Regions from separate parts of the Homo sapiens genome. Here region 2 is linked to region 1. The links come from fine-mapping of genetic effects on gene expression. Tissue or cell type: spinal cord. Region 1 holds a variant in brackets; the other region holds the start of a gene. All regions are shown on one strand. Distances are between the middles of the regions.

Evidence for each region. PIP is the estimated chance that this variant, and not a neighbour inherited with it, causes the effect.
Region 2: it holds the start of AADAT, and the variant in region 1 is fine-mapped to the expression of AADAT in spinal cord (GTEx, PIP 0.97).

Annotation. Positions count from the first base shown.
Region 1 is chr4:170,138,633-170,146,821 of GRCh38, forward strand. No RefSeq gene overlaps it. Among named protein-coding and RNA genes, the nearest start is that of AADAT, 53 kb to the left of the region's middle. RefSeq lists silencers at 6-300, 71-220 and an enhancer at 6,928-7,097. The variant T/A (reference allele first, on the strand shown) is at 3,743.
Region 2 is chr4:170,085,171-170,093,359 of GRCh38, forward strand. AADAT (aminoadipate aminotransferase) reads right to left here and starts at 4,786. Exons shown (of 13, transcript NM_016228.4): 1 at 4,454-4,786; 2 at 3,226-3,394; 3 at 1,946-2,078. The coding sequence starts at 4,520. RefSeq lists a silencer at 4,008-4,302 and an enhancer at 6,202-6,896.

The DNA.
Region 1 (8,189 bases):
TCTGAAGGCCTTAATTTCTAATATAGCGGTTTGTATCTGCTGTGTACGCAGATGAGAGTTGTACCTAACCGAGGAGCGGGCGGTCCTTGCAGCGTGGGCTCCAGGAAAGGAAAGGAAGCCTTGACGCAGCATCATTTATGGACTTGAACACTAGGTGTCGCTCGCGCACTTGTTTTCAGCCGTAGGATTCAGAGACGGTATTTTAGGCTTAGACCCAACACTTGATTTACAGTTCTTCCGAATCTTTGCCCCACACTTATACATTGTTTTCGGATGTTTGTGCCAATCTCCTGCTAACCTATGCTCTCTGCCTGAACCTCATTCACCTGCCTCAAATTTCTGGCTTATTGAAGAACAGAACTCCTTAATTCCATTTCACTGCTTTCTAGGTCTCAACATTTTTGCTCTTCTTTTCTGAGAAGTGTTCGGCAGTATACCATATCTACACTCCCATCCATAGGCCTCTTAGTGCACCAGATCCAAAATATCTTATATAAAGGATGATATAAATATCTTACATAAAATATAAATGTATAATGTCTATAAAATATCTTTCAGTATCTTTTAATATCTAAAGTACCTTGTGTAACGATCTTATACAAAGTATGACATCTTATATAAAGTATTATATAAAGTCATTGATTCACTGAACAAACATTATTTAGTTTTGTGTGCAGCATAGAATCATCTTATGTTTTGATGTAAACACTCAAGTATTTGTTCCTGATGTATTCAGAAGAATATTTAGGGAATATGAAAATTCCCTAACACATATAAAGGATATCGTTTATCCACTGGAGTGTATAGATAGGATAATTTTTCTAAAAATATAAGATCTCTCTCTTAGAAAAGGATAAATACATTCTGTGTTGCTTCTAATGTTTGTCAGGGGAAGGAGGCCACATTGAGTTCTATTGTGAGAAAAGAAGCAGAATGAGAATGAGGTCTTTTGCATGGAAGGGATAATGAGAGTTTGGGCAGAGCAGGAAGAGACTACTAAAGAGGGGACGAAGTCAGCAAAAGGATGGACTTGGCTAGGGAGAGCCTGTATTCATGCCCCTGAGAGGTCTGAGCGTGGTTGATGACCTGGAATGGGTGTATTCTTTGTGTCCAAACCTGTGGCTCAGGGATGACCTAGCTGGGCCAGCTGTCCTCATTAAATAGTCATTATTTTTATTAAATGGAGGATCGTGCTTCATTCAAAGTCAATAACAGCTAGTATCAATGACTAAGATATTGACTGCCTAGTAGTAGCAACATCCCTGCCTACACCCAGAGATATTATCAGCCAATTACCTCATCATCTGGTTATGGGGGAATCTGTGTTCTGCGCCATGCCTTGAGCATGACACATATTTTGGCAAACCTATGTCTAGGTTTCCTTTCTGCAATACCATATGAAATAGTAAACTCGAGTGACCACTGGACTTCTAATGGGATGAGCAGTGTGGCAGAAGTTTCTGTTTTGCTAGGACCATCCTAACCTAAGAAAGTCATGAAGTAAACTCCACAGTATCGTGTATGAAATTCTATGCTAGGCATTGTAGACTAAATAGAGATGAATAAGACTTGATTCCTTATGTCTGATTCCTGTTTATGGGGCAGAATGGATACTATGGGTCCATGATAAAGTGTCAGGTCAGGAGGGGAATACATTGGGGTAAGTATTTCCCTACTTGAGACAGTAAATGCAAATAAGGTTTTGTAAGTCCCTTTACTCTTAAGGTAGGGCTCAACTCTGTTTTAATACATTTCTGACTTCTGAGTTCATTGGTTTATGTGTGAAACAAAAAGATTACTTTCTTAATTTCTTGAAAAAGTCCAATATCATCTGTAAAGTCTTTTGTTGATGTTATATGATATCACACAGAGGAAGAATTATGGGTTGGATCGTAATACTATTAGCTTGATGAGTTTCTGGCTGAACATTGAACCACACATTGCTAATCTGATATGTTTTCTGCTGGTAAATATCAGAGCCTTGTTGTGGCCCGTATTCTGTTCAATACGTTCATCAGGGATTTGGATAAAGATATGAAGGACACACTCACCAAACATGTGGATGACACAGAGTTAAGAGGGTTCATGAAAAAAAACCCTAAATGACAGAATCAGATGAAAGCGGTCCTAACATGATAGAAAGATGAACCAAACTCTAAAAGAAGTGTGATAGAGATAAACATTAAGCACTATATATATAATATATATATATATATATATATAACTTTAGTATTGTTAACCAAAATAAACTAGGTTCCTGCACTAGGCCTGACAGACCAAACCAACATAAAGTTGAACTCCAGGAGCTGAGCTTTAGTTACTGCAGGACGCTCCGTAGCCAGTTAACCAATGAAGCTGTATCCAATTCAGTTTTCTGTACACCGTACTTCTGTTTCCTATAAATGCTGTCAGATCATGTTATTAGTTGGAGTTCTCTGAACCTGCCCTGGTTCAGAGGACTGCCTGATTTGTGAATCATTTTCATTCTGTTTTTACTTTGCTTTGCTTTCCTCTGCTCAAATAAAGTCAGTTAAATTTAAATTTGGTCTAAGGTTTTTCTGTTTAACAGCATTGTTGAATCTTAACATTAGAAGTATGACAAAACAAAAACAAGCAAAAACGTAACAGAATATAATAGTTCAAAACACAATATTTGGTATTACAGTGAGACATGGTTAAATAGGTAAGGCATAAATCTCTCTCTGTGAGTTCTAGATCAGCTTATCAAGATCATTAAAATAGCAACAGCCTGAATCCTGAACTTTCATTTTGTCTCTTTGGAAACTGTATTTTTGACATTGACAGGCTTAAGGCAGCCTTATTTATTCTGAAAATAACTAGACAGAGAAGTCTTCATGAGCAAGAATATCTTAAACTTTCATGATTCCAGCTAAGAATAGCCTGTCTACAGTGTGACATATTGGCTACATTTGTCAGCCTTTTTATTCATGAGGATAGTCACACACTTTTAAGATCACCAAACAAAACCACCCTATCCATCCATTGACTTTCTTTCTCCCTTTATCACTCAAAGTGAATTCAGCATTGAATTTGTTTACCTGCATTAGGTAACAGTTTTGGAACCGGTTGCATGAGGGGAAGTAATGATACAGTTCTTTCATTCTATAATATTTTTCGTGAATCCACTGCAGTGTTTAGGGTTATCCATAGGAATGTTTAAAAGAGGTTTTCTGCAGCCGGGTGCAGTGACTCATGCCTGTAATCCCAGCACTTTGGAAGGCCGAGGCAGGTGGATCACCTGAGGTCGGGAGTTCAAGAGCAGCCTGGTCAACATGGTGAAACCCTGTCTCTACTAAAAATACAAAAAAATTAGCCGGGCGTGGTGGCGAGCACCTGTAATCCCAGCTACTTGGGAGGCTGAGACAGAGAATCACTTGAACCTGGGAGGTGAAAGTTGCAGTGAACCGAGATTTCACCAATGCACTCCAGCCTGGATGACAGAGTGAGACTCTGTCTCAAAACAAAACAAAACAAAACAAAACAAAAACTGTATCCAAGAGTAATTTTTTACTTGATTTGATACTTGAGAGATTCTCATGTATCTGAGAAGCACCTCCATCGTAAATATGTGATCCACCCCAACAACTGAAAGCATATTGGTTACAATTTTTGCAGAATTAGAGCACAGCTCATGTTCCTTCTATCTCGTTAGGCATATGGGAACATCACTCTGGATGATGATGTAATTTCACAAGTGTTGACCATTGAGGTCGCTGAGTTA[T/A]CCTTAATTTCTTGTCAGCCCTTCTGTGTGATATAGGCAGTGTTGCCTCTTACATGCTCACCAGTCTCTACTCTGTTGTCCTGATTGTTGAACTTTGGTGGTGATCACCTCACTCAGATCCACACCCACCTGTTCACCTGTTTCTGAGAGTGGTCCTGAGCATTTCCAGGTTGGGCATGGTAGAGGTTCAGTGGGACTGGTGGAGATTGAGGTGGCAGTAATGGGATCCATTATTTTAAGGATAAAACTTATAAATTACAACTAACAAGACAAAAAACCCCATCTAATCTTTAAGAACAAGATGCTACAGATTTAGCAGTAATGTTTGTGAAAATGTCTTAGGGGCTATAAAGAAGAATATTCTCAAATGAATCAACTGTAATGTAGCAGCAGAAACATCAATATGTTAAACAATATTAGTGGAAGTGAATTTGAGTGAGTGAGTGGGTGTAATCCTCCTCTTGTGAGTTGATCAGGCCACACCTGGGAACTGCTTTCAGGTTTTAGCAATATGCTTTTCTTTCAAAAATAACATTGATTATTTTTATTACAAAGTAATATATTATCACTGTAGAAAATCTAGAAAGCACAGAAAAATACATCAATTAAAAATAATCTATAACCCCGCTGATCGGATAGAATCATTAACATTTTGTTATGTCTTCTTTCAGATATATGCACACACACATAAATACATATGTACATATGATCACATTTTGTTTTGTCATCTTTTATCCCCACTTGACAACATATCTCAGTTTCTCAGTTAAGTGACATTCTGTTGTCTATTCAAACACTTTTAAAATTTATCATATAGGTATACTACACTATTATTCTTAAATATTAGAAGTAATGCTATGATGCACATTATTACAGATAAACATTTGCTTATATTCCTGAACATTTCCCTAAAGAAAATTCTTAGATGTGTAAATTCTGGATAACAAGAGTATTGGCATTACTCTTTAAGAGAGACATGGACAAACCAAGGTATGTTCAGAATAGTGACTTTATTTATGGACTGGAAACAATATCATTTGAGGATAGTTGCAAGAGAAAAAAATGGAGATTCAAAACTTTTCACATATTTCAGTGCTTGTCATTGAAAAGAAGAATTATATAAGTCAAAAATACATTGTTTAGTACCAGTAGCTTGAAGCTACAGGAGACAGATGGTACAGTACCATGTGAAATGCTTGTTACTGTCAGAGCTATTAAAAGTGAATTAGGGCGAGGGTGACTCAAGGGGAAGAGAGTGGCCTGAACTTGGAGGTACTGAGTATAGGCCAATAGCCATTTAAATGTGGCCAAGGGGATTCAGAGGCTAAGCGTGGATCTTACTAAGGCTAAGGACTTTTTTATTATTATTATTTTTATTTTTTGTATTATACTTTAAGTTCCAGGGTACATGTGCACAACGTGCAGGTTTGTTACATATGTATACATCTGCCATGTTGGTGTGCTGCACCCATTAACTCATCATTTACATTAGGTATATCTCCCAATGCTAGCCCTCCCCCTCCCCCCACCCCACGACAGGCCCAGTGGGTGATGTTCCCCACCCTGTGTCCAAGTGTTCTCATTGTTCAATTCCCACCTATGAGTGAGAACATGCGGTGTTTGGTTTTCTGTGCTTGCGATAGTTTGCTCAGAATGGTGGTTCCAGCCTCATCCATGTCCCTACAAAGGACATGAACTCATCCGGCTAAAGACTCTTCTAACGCTCTGAGTCAATAATTTGTCCTAAGTGGAAAATCTTAAGAAATGAATACCTGATGAGTTTTGTTTTTATGTTTTATTTCCATAGGTGTTTTTGGGAACAGGTAGTGTTTGGTTACATGAATAAGTTCTTTTGTGGTGATTTCTGAGATTTTGGTGCCCCCATCACCCGAGCAGTATACACTGTACCTAATTTGTAGTCTTTTATTCCTCATCTCCACCCAGCATTCCCCCCGCAGTCTCCAAAGTCCATTGTGTCATTCTTATGTCTTTGCATCCTCACAGCTTAGCTCCTACTTATGAGTGACAACTTATGATGTTTGGTTTTCCATCCCTGAGTTACTTCACTTAAAGCAATGGTCTCCAATTCCTTCCAGGTTGCTGCAAATGCCATTATTTCATTCCTTTTTATGGTTGAGTAGTATCCATGGCTGGTTAGATTGTTTTGTTGTTTGGTTGTTTTTTCATGTTGGTAGAGGGTAGTTTACACAGGGTTTTGGAAAATATAAAATAAAACCAACAGCTACAAGGTGGCTTATTTGAGAATTCAGGTATATTTTCTTGCTAAAATAATTCTTAAAGTTCACACTTACTCATGGATTTTTTTTTTTTGAGGCAGAATTTCGCTTTTGTCACCCAGGCTGGAGTGCAATGGCATGATCTCGGCTCACTGCAACCTCTGCCTCCTGGGTTCAAGCGATTCTCCTGCCTCAGCCTCCCAAGTAGCTGGGATTACAGGCATCCGCCACCATGCCCAGGTAATTTTTGTATTTTTTTTTTTTTTAGTAGAGACTGGGTTTCACCATGTTGGCCAGGCTGGTCTTGAACTCCTGACCTGAGGTGATCCACCCACCTAAGCCTCCCAAAGTGCTGGGATTACAGGCGTGAGCCACTGCACCTGCCTGGATTGTTTTGATAATGAAATAGATAATAATTTCCATTGTTATAGTGCTTATTATCACCTGGATATTTTAAAATATTAATCAGTTTTTTATTGTTTATAATCCACTCACATATGTAATAGGATGGATGCCCAGCTAAAGGTCCTATGAGGTGTTTTCCTCCCCTTCATTCTAGGGAGAGAACTATCAGAACTTGTTGTCCTTTGTGGATATGAAGGCAGTTTCCTGACAAAGGGTCTTCCTGGATGCAGCTGGAGCTGAGAGTAGCATTTGACACAGAGTAGGTGTGTGTGAATGGATGAATGGATGGATGAATGAACAGTGTAATGCCCTCTGGAGGGTGAAGAGAATACTTCCATTATGTAAGAAGAGAGATGTAATCAGACTCTGTGTTTCCCAGATGGAAAGGAATACCTGCTTGATCTTTGAGGAAGTTGATTCCTTAGAAGGAAAAAGTGACAGTGGCTTAGGGTCTACAAAGGGAGGAAACTAAGCACACTGCTCCTGGGCTTGCCCCTTCGGACAGGCTAAGGATGGGTGACTAAGGGAGATAGAAAGGCCTGTTCTGTCTTGGTCTAATTCAGAAAGAGTTGGGTTATCCTCTCTTTAAGGTCTACTTGGTTCCTCTGTGGGAACAGAATGAATACCAGCCCCGATGACCAGCACCAAAACCAGCATCAGAATCAGCATCATCTCTTGAAAGGGGACTAGGGGTATTAGCTCCCATGTGCCAGCAAGAAGCAGTGGCATTAGTAACACTGTTAGAAGAGTAAAGTTTCTTTTTGCTTGGATATAGAAGTTGGACTGCATTCTCATATTTGGGCTGAGAAAGCTATTACGTTCTTGGGTAATGTAAGGATAAGTTTGCCTCTAAAGAAAGATCTAGGAGAATGTAAGCTAACTGGAAGTAGAAATTCCTGCTCATTTTGTTTATTGATGTGTCCCGCGCATAGAACAATGACCGACACATAGTAGTGACTCAATGAATATTTATTGTATAAATGAATACTGTATTTTCTGCTAATGTGGCAAATAGTGCTTAAACTATTAATCAGGAAAGTAAAAATGTGATGACATGTTCTGATTTGTGGAGCATTTATATCATCTCTTAATTATATATTTGCACATAAATAAGAAGATGGGAATATATGGAAAAAGACTACATTTTTATTCTGAAATCAGAACTCTTTTTAACTCACCTCAATACTACAACCTACCTAAACATAATTTTGTTAATGTCATCACTGTTACCGGTGAGTAGATTATAATACTTATCTTTCAAATCAAATTTTTGTCTGTGTTGTGAAAGCCACAATTAGATGGAGCAAGGATCAATAAAGTATCCAGTTAATACACCAGAATATAAATGAAATGAATCATAGGAAATGAAATGACTTTTGACAAATGCTGAGACAAATGCTGTGGCACAAAACCACAGGTTGTCATTTGAAATTGATATTGTAGGGAAACTGTAGTTGCAGCATGAACTCTAATATATAAATCTTCCATGGCACAGGTGTTCACTAATTTGATTTCTAAAAATGCTAGGCATTATGAAATGAAACATATTTCTGAGCATTTCTGACTCATTTACAGATTCAGATATATTTCTTTCTTTTTTTTCCCTATAGCTCATATAAAGAGACTAAGAAGGATGTTTATTTTAGAGTTTCGAATTTTCATTTTTATTTAAAAGACTAGCCATAACTAGGCATTAAAACTTGTTTTTTGCTATCTCTTTCCTTTTTTGTAGAAAGGCTTCAAGATAGGATTTGAAAATGTCAACAACAAAATAAGACTATTCAACCTGAAGCCTTTTGGCAGAA
Region 2 (8,189 bases), 53 kb before region 1:
GACTATATTATCAGTAAGGCTTCTGGTCAAGAGTAGCCTATTGGTAGTTATGTTTTGGAGGAGTCAAAAGTTATATGCAGATTTTCAACTGCATGGAGTCATTGCCCTTAAACCCCTGCGTTGTTCAAGGGTCAACTGTAAATATATTTTTCATATCAGTTAGGGGACATACAAATTTCAAATATCCTAAATTAGAAGGGAAGGCTGTTTATCATCTGGGAGCACTGTTTAAAAGATGAGAGAGAAACACAGGAGTCTAAAATAACATGACTCCTGGAGAACAAAGTGGAAGAAATATTAAACCAGATACATATTAGTGCCCCTATAATAAGCATGTCTGTAAGTAGTAAGTTATTGACGTATTTAGCAATCTATGCTATCTTCCTTTTTTGTGTAACTGGTGTTGTGATGGATAAAGAAGAAACTGTCTTGAGCAACTTTCTGGAAGAAAAAGTCCATAGTATCCTTTCTTGAGGAAAGAATTTATTTCATTAAAAAATACTCTTATATCATTCTATACAATCACAAATGTTTCTCTTCAAGCAAAGACTCAAACACTAGCTAATTCTTTTACTTTTCCTAATTAAATACAAAAAGGGTAAGTTTTTTTAATTTTTAAAAACTTTAAAAAATGTTTTTACTACTGTAACCCATTATTCTGTAACAATAATTTAATTAAAATTCATTAAAGCAAACCAGATTACAGTTTTCATATTTCCATGAAAAAGAAAACTACTCTGGTTTAAGATAAAGATAAATGGGAGTCATAGATTAATTTAGATCTGAGAATGAATATAGAGAATCTTATTATTCATGGAAAACAAAGGAGAAAATATACCAGCACTTTGGGAGGCCAAGGTGGACAGACTGCTTGAGCCCATGAGCTCAAGACCAGCCTGTCCAACATGGCAAAGGAATATAAAAATTAGCTAGGCATATTGGTGTGCACCCGCAGTCCCAGCTACCTGGGAGGCTAAGGTGGAAGAATTGTTGGAGCCCAGGGAGGTCGAGACTGCAGGGAGCCGTGATTGCGCCACCGCACTCCAGTCTGGGTGACAGGGTGAGACCCTGTCTCAAAAAAAAAAAAAGAAAGAAAAGAAAATAACAGATCAAACTGAGGACCACAGATGTGGTCTCTTTATTGTGGCAACTAACCAGTGGTGTTTACATCTGTGGAGTTCCCGGAACCCAGAAGGGAAGAAGATGGAATAACTAATGCCAGGGGGAGAGGGAGAGAGAACCAATCCATATAAGAAGTCAGAAATACAGACATATAAATAGATCTAGAGAAATACACCCAAGAGGGGGACAAGATACAAGCAGTGGCAAGGAGAGATTCTACAGACAGATATGTAAAAGAATATAAATATGTGTATCTCAGGAATATGAAAGCATGCCCTCTAAAAAATTTAAAAATTGTATTGAAATTTCCTAACTATAGGCGGAAATCAAACGTAACTTGAATTTTTGAGCCAGATGAAATTAAGCAGTGTTCACTAAGCTTTTGGTAGGAGTTGAGTACTCCCTTAGTGGGCATCCTGCTTTAATGGTTAATAGGTCTGGGTAATTGACCACATGCTCTGTATTTAATATTTAAGAAAGATTAGGCTAGTGAATGATGTTAAGAGCAGGTAATTTTTCAAAGTCCTTGTGTTCACAATGAGGAAAACTAGGGGGAAATATTGATAGATCAACCTACAATATTTCCACCTGGCTTTTGCTTACAGTCAACACCCCCTACCCACCCTTGCCCATCCCCGGCCACAACTGCTCCCACCCCCATCCTATGACTTGTCTTTTAGTTCCCTGTTTATAATTCTAGGTGAAGACAAGAAAGACTACCAGTAATCCATAAAATATAATTCTCTGTGGTTAAGTGCGAGAGGACTATAGAAATGAATGCTTCCAATTCTACATTTTGGCTGAGTTTTCCTTTCAGTCTTACCTTACAAAGACCTTGTTGGCTGCCAGATGTGACACATAGATCCATTTGTCCTTGACTGGGTGGGTAATGGATGGTAGGAGGATTATGCAATTTTATTTGTAACTGTTTTAGCCAGGACAAAAGCTCTGGAATTCTAAAGCAAAAAATGTATATTTAAATTCATAGTAGTAAAAATCATAGTAACAGTAGTAGACAGGAAATAATAAATGACAGCTTTATCAAGCACTTTGTACACTCAATTAAAAAACCCTCAAATGCTTTTTGCCAGTATGAATATTCCTATTTAAAAGATAGGCAGTAGACTTAGAGATTAGGAAATTCCTGTAAGTCATTCAGCCAGAAATTCTCAGAAAGTCAATTACGTAATAAATGAGCTGAGATTTGAATCTACATCTTTCTTATTCCAAACCTGAAGTCTTTAGCGCATGCGTTGCATAATCGATTCTTTGTTCTCTCTAGGAAGAGTTCTATGGCTACCTAGAAGTTCAGACTCAATAAGTTGTTTGTATCATGGAATGTTTGAATAAGCCTATGTATATTTAACATATTACATAACTAACACATATATACATGAATAACATTTCAATACACTTTTCAATCACAGAACAAAGCAGGTTTTAATAAAGTATAATTTATAGATTCTCTATAAATTATCCTTTATCACTTGAAGAAGACCAGCTAAGAAAGTCAAGGTATATGTTTCAGCTTGCCTTTAAGAAATTAAAGACATTTGAACCTATGAGGGCAATGTATTTGAATGGCTGCTTGTTTAGACTATAGAAATGAATGACTATATTCAATGTATTTGCATGACTGCTTGTTTAGACTATAGAATGAAGAAACGGAAGATCCAGGATGCTTAAACTTTAAAAAGTTGAAGCTTCCTGGATCTTCCGTTTCTTCATTTCTCCTGATATGTTTGTTTCACCTGGACATCTTCTCATTTTTTTGGACTCAGCTCTAATGGTATTTCCTTCTAGAAGCCTTCTTGGTCATTTGCGATTGAGAAGCAATCACTGAGGAGTGTTAAACATTCAATATCCTTTCTGTTCTTAATTATCCTTTGAAAACCTTTCCCCAGACCTTCCTAACCATTGAATACTCATTTGGTTAGTATTCAATGACTGAGTATTTGGTCATTGAATGACCAAATGGGTCAATGGCTTTAGAATATTTATGAATGGACCTTAGAATATTTCTTTAATATTCTTTATCAATGGGCCTTAGAATATTTCTTATGAAAATAAGCCAATAAAATTATGTTAAGTATTGATACTTACCCAGCACTCGGAGAATACTGAAGTGCTCTCTTCATCATCTCTTCTCCAAATTGGATGGTCTTTCCATTTTCTACAGTGATTACGGCAGTCTTAAAAGGAAACATGTTTGGATTTGGTAAGCCACCAGCCAAGGAGATCATCGATTTTGGTCCTCTGCTCAATATGTCAGCTACAATACACATGGAAGAGAAGAAACAATTTCATTGAAGATTGTTATAAGCGGATAGTTAAGCATGCATTATAGTCAATAAAACTATAAAGTTTAACGATTTCTAGTGATAGAGTGTGCTATGGTCTAAATGTTGGTGCTCCCCCAGATTCATACTTGGAAGTTAATACTAATGTGATAGTTTTAACAGGTGGGGTCTCTAGAGGTGATTAGGTCAGGAGGGATCCACCCTCCTGAATGGGATTGGTGCACTTATAAAAGAGGGCTGAGGGAATGCCCTTGGCCCTTCTGCCACGTGAGGACATAGGTTCTCCCTTCTACCACGTGAGGATGCAGCAAGATGGCTCTGTCTATAAGGAAGGGCTCTCACCATGGTGACACAGAAGCTGCTGGCACTTTGATCTTAGACTTCCTAGCTTCCAGAACTGTGAGAAATAATTCTATTGTTCATAAATTACCCAGTTTGTGGTATTTTGTTATAGCAGCCTGAATGGACTAAGACAAAAGCTAGTCTAAAATAAACATACAGAATAACTTTTTCTAGGCACCTCACTTGTGGAGGGACTAAAGAATGAAGGTGACCAAAGAGAAGGCAGAGGGATCAGAAAGACAGCAAAGGGCCACAATAGCAGAAGCCCTCCTCCACTTAGCCCCGACCTGTCTGTGAGCTTCATGGCCCACCCCTCTCCCATTTACCTGGCCCTCTCCACTGTACACCCATCTGCACGCTGTGCATGCCCCTTCTCAGCTTCCCAGGAAGAGCCTTTCTTGATAGCACGCCCCCTCCCTTCCAAGGCCGTGCCCCACAGCAGTCTGCGCCTCTCTCTACTGTTGCTCCTACTCTGCTCCAGCAGAAATACCCGCCTTCCGTTTCAGCCCGAGTTCTTTGAGAACAAAGGCTGTGTCTATTTCATTTCTGCACGCAGAGCCTGGCTCACCGCGAGCGTGCACAGGGGTACGCATGGATGCAACCAAGCGGTGGCTTGCTAGGGAACCCTCCTTAGAGGCTGTGCGAGGAATGCCCCACCCCAAAGGAGAGATGGTCACCCCGTTTCTCACTCATGGTCCGGATGGGAGAAGGGTTTCTGGCTGCGCTCGCTGCCGTGATGAACCGTGCGTAATTCATGTCTTCTGACAGCCAAGCATCAAGCTTCTTCTTCAGTGGTTGAGGACTAGAAAAACCAAAGAGCCTCGTCAAGTCCTGCCTGCTAACTCCTCACTCTGGCAACGCCACCGCGAGATGTGTCCCCCCGCTGCGTCTGGCTTCCCGCGCGCGGTGCCCGGAGAACGCCGCCGAAACTCCCCGGCTGGACGCTGCGTTCGGTCTCCCGGTCCTAAACGGGTCTGGGGCTGTGTGGCGAGCCCGGCAAAGTCCACGCCGCACGCGCTCCTGCGGCCGCCAGGGCCCAGGCCGGTTTTGCCCCGCCGCGGGCCTCGCCGCGCCCCCTCCCGCCCCGCGCCGTGGCCTATGGCCGCCCGCGGCGCGCGCCTCCCCGTCCCGGATCATCGCCCTCAGAGCGCAGGGCGCGGGGTAGCCCAGGCGCGAGGCGCTTGCAGCCCCAGGCCAATGACTCTTGACCTCGCCGCTGGGAATCACCGCAACCCGGCGTCCGCGTTGGCCGGCCTAGGCGCCGGCCCAGAGGCTAGCCCAGGGGCTGACCGAGGGGACCGGAAGTGCCCGTGATCCTAATCCTCGGGAACCATCTGGCGGCGACTTGGGTCCACTGCAGGGGGCTCCCGAGCTGCGCCCAGCCGGGAGCGGCCCCACCCTCGTTCCCGCGCGCTCCGCTGGCCTCCTCTCAGTCACTGGGACTGTGCATTTTGCCCGCTCAGACCATGGCTATGCTAAATACCCATCTTTCGTTAGTGAAACTCTGGGCACTCTCCTGGGAAGCATCCCGGCGACCAAGACGAATTTCAACATCACTTTCTCGAAGATCTCAGCATTTTGGAGTGACGATGGAGTTCTGACAAAAATTTTTGAAAAATCACTCTGAGTCTCTTCAATTTTAGTGTCTACCCTCACATTGAATTTCTGACCTTTCGTTAAATAAGAATTATGTTGGAAGTGAATATCCGGATCTTTTTGGGTCTAGCACCTTGCCTTTTTTTTTCTTACAAAATAACCCTTCTTACTCCCCACCTCCCTCAACTTTTCTGCAATTTCTCCTTCCTGAATCACCAAAATGGAATGTACAAGGTTTAATGTGAGCACTTAATGAGGGAAGGGTTTCAGACAACCTCTCTTTGACTTTAAAAAATTCTTTAATGGTTATTAAAATGAATGAACAGATTCATTCATTCAGCACAAATTTACTGAGTACTTCCTAGATGATTATTGACTCACTGCCAAATGGCTCTCTTTTAAGTTTACCTAATAGGTTGGTCAAGGAGCCACTGCTTTTATCTAGGTCCTGGCAGCAAAAGGCTGAGATAACCCAGTAAAATCTTTGTGCTAGCAGCTAAATAACAAAAAGGAAGTATTGAGAGGTGACAGCCTGCTGGCAGCCCTCGCAGCCCTCGCTCACTCTTGGCGCCTCCTCGGCCTCAGCGCTCACTCTGACCGCGCTTGAGGGGCCCTTCAGCCCGCCGCTGCACTGTGGGAGCCCCTTCCTGGGATAGCGGAGGCCGGAGCCGGCTCCCTCAGCCTGCGGGGAGGTGTGTAGGGAGAGGCACGGGCGGGAACCAGGGCTGTGCGGGCGCTTGCGAGCCAGCTAGAGTTCCGGGTGGGCGTGGGCTTGGCGGGCCGGCACTCAGAGCGGCGGGCCGGCTCCGCCAGACCCGGGTAGTGAGGGGCTTAGCACCCGGGCCAGCAGCTGCGGAGGGTGTGCCCAGTCTCCCAGCAATGCCGGCTCACCGGCGCTACCTTCGAATTCTCGCCAGGCCTCAGCTGCCTCCCAGCGGGGTGGGACTCGGACCCGCAGCCAGCCATGCCTGAGCCTCCCCACCACCCACCCGTGGGCTCCTGCGCTGCCCGAGCCTCCCTGACGAGTGCCGCCCCCTGCTCCACAGCACCCGGTCCCATTTACCGCCCAAGGGCTGAGGAGTGCGGGCTCACAGCCCGGGACTGGCAGGCAGCTCCACCTGTGGCCCCAGTGCCGGCTCCACTGGGGGAAGCCAGCTGGGCTCCTGAGTCTAGAGGAGACTTGGAGAACCTTTATGTCTAGCTAAGGGATTGTGAACACACCAATCAGCACCCTGTGTCTAGCTCAGGGTTTGTGGATGCACCAATGGGCACTCTGTATCTAGCTAATCTGATGGGGACTTGGAGAATCTTTATGTCTAGCTAAGGGATTGTGAATACACCAATCAGCACTCTGTATCTAACTCATGGTTTGTAAATGCACCAATCAACACTCTGTATCTAGCTCAGGGTTTGTAAATACACCAATTAGCACTCTGTATCTAACTAATCTAGTGGGGACTTGGAGAACTTTTGTGTGTAGCTCAGGGATTGTAAACGCACCAATCAGCACCCTGTCAAAATGGACCAATCAGCTCTGAAAAACAGGCCAATTGGCTCTCTGTAAAATGGACCAATCAGCAGGATGTGGATGGGGCCAGATAAGAGAATAAAAGCAGGCTGCCTCAGCCACCAGCGGTAACCCGCTTGGATACTTTTGCAGCGTGTGGTGGTTTTGTTTTCTCGCAGTTTGCAATAAATCTTGCTGCTGCTGACTCTTTGGGTCCACATTGCTTTTATGAGTTGTAACACTCACCGCGAAGGTGTGCAGTTTCTCTCCTGAGGCCGTGGAGACCACGCACCCACAGGGAGGAGTAAACAAATCCAGCCGAGCTGTCTTAAGAGCTGTAACACTCACCGCCAAAGTCTGCAGCTTCACGCCAGCAGCCAGTGAGACCACGAACCCACCAGAAGGAAGAAACTCCCAACACATCCGAACCTCAGAAGGAACAAACTCTGGACACACTGACTTTAAGAACTGTTAACACACCGCGAGTGTCTGCGGCTTCGTTCTTGATGTCAGTGAGACCAAAACCCCACCAATTCCAGGCACAGTATCTAGTAAACCTGTTAGAAACCCACGAGGCAAAATGCTTCTGCGTTCAGAGACTTCAAGTAGTTGAAATCCCATTTGATGGCTTAATAGCTGGGTGTCTTTGGACAAGTTAATTAACCTTTCTCTGTATTGGTTTTCTCGCAGGCATGTTGACAGGAATAAATGAGATAATCTGTGTTAAACTAATCAGTGCAGTGGTCTGCACGTTGTAAAAACGCTATGAACATTGGCTGTTGTTAGTAACATGCATTTAAGCAAACCTTAAGGCCTCAGCCTCCAAATGTTTTTGACTAAAGCTATTTGGCAACTTTTAAGGCCTGTTCTCAGTTAATCCATGCACACAGATCCTTATGTGTTTGAGCTTGTCCATTCTAAAAGTAGTTCCTGAATTTTTATAGAAGTTAACAAGCACCGGAAACATCTAAATAAGGTGTAGATCAAGGTAAATTGTAACTTGTAACTAGATATGTTGATGTTCCTGGGGACTTAAGGCTTTTTTTTGATAGGGGAGGACTCTAACTGAGCAAGGTTTCCTTAGATACTTAGAAGAAAATTTAAACTTTGGCCAGGAGGTGTGGTTCACGCCTGTAATCCCAGCACTTTGGGAGGCCAAGGTGGGTGGATCAACTGAGGTCAGGAGTTGGAGACCAGCCTGACCATCATGGCAAAACCCCATCTCTACTAAAAAATACAAAAATTAGCGGTGTTTGGTGGCAGATGCCTGTAATCTCAGCCACTCGGGAGGCTGAGGCATGAGCATTTTTCGAACCCGGGAG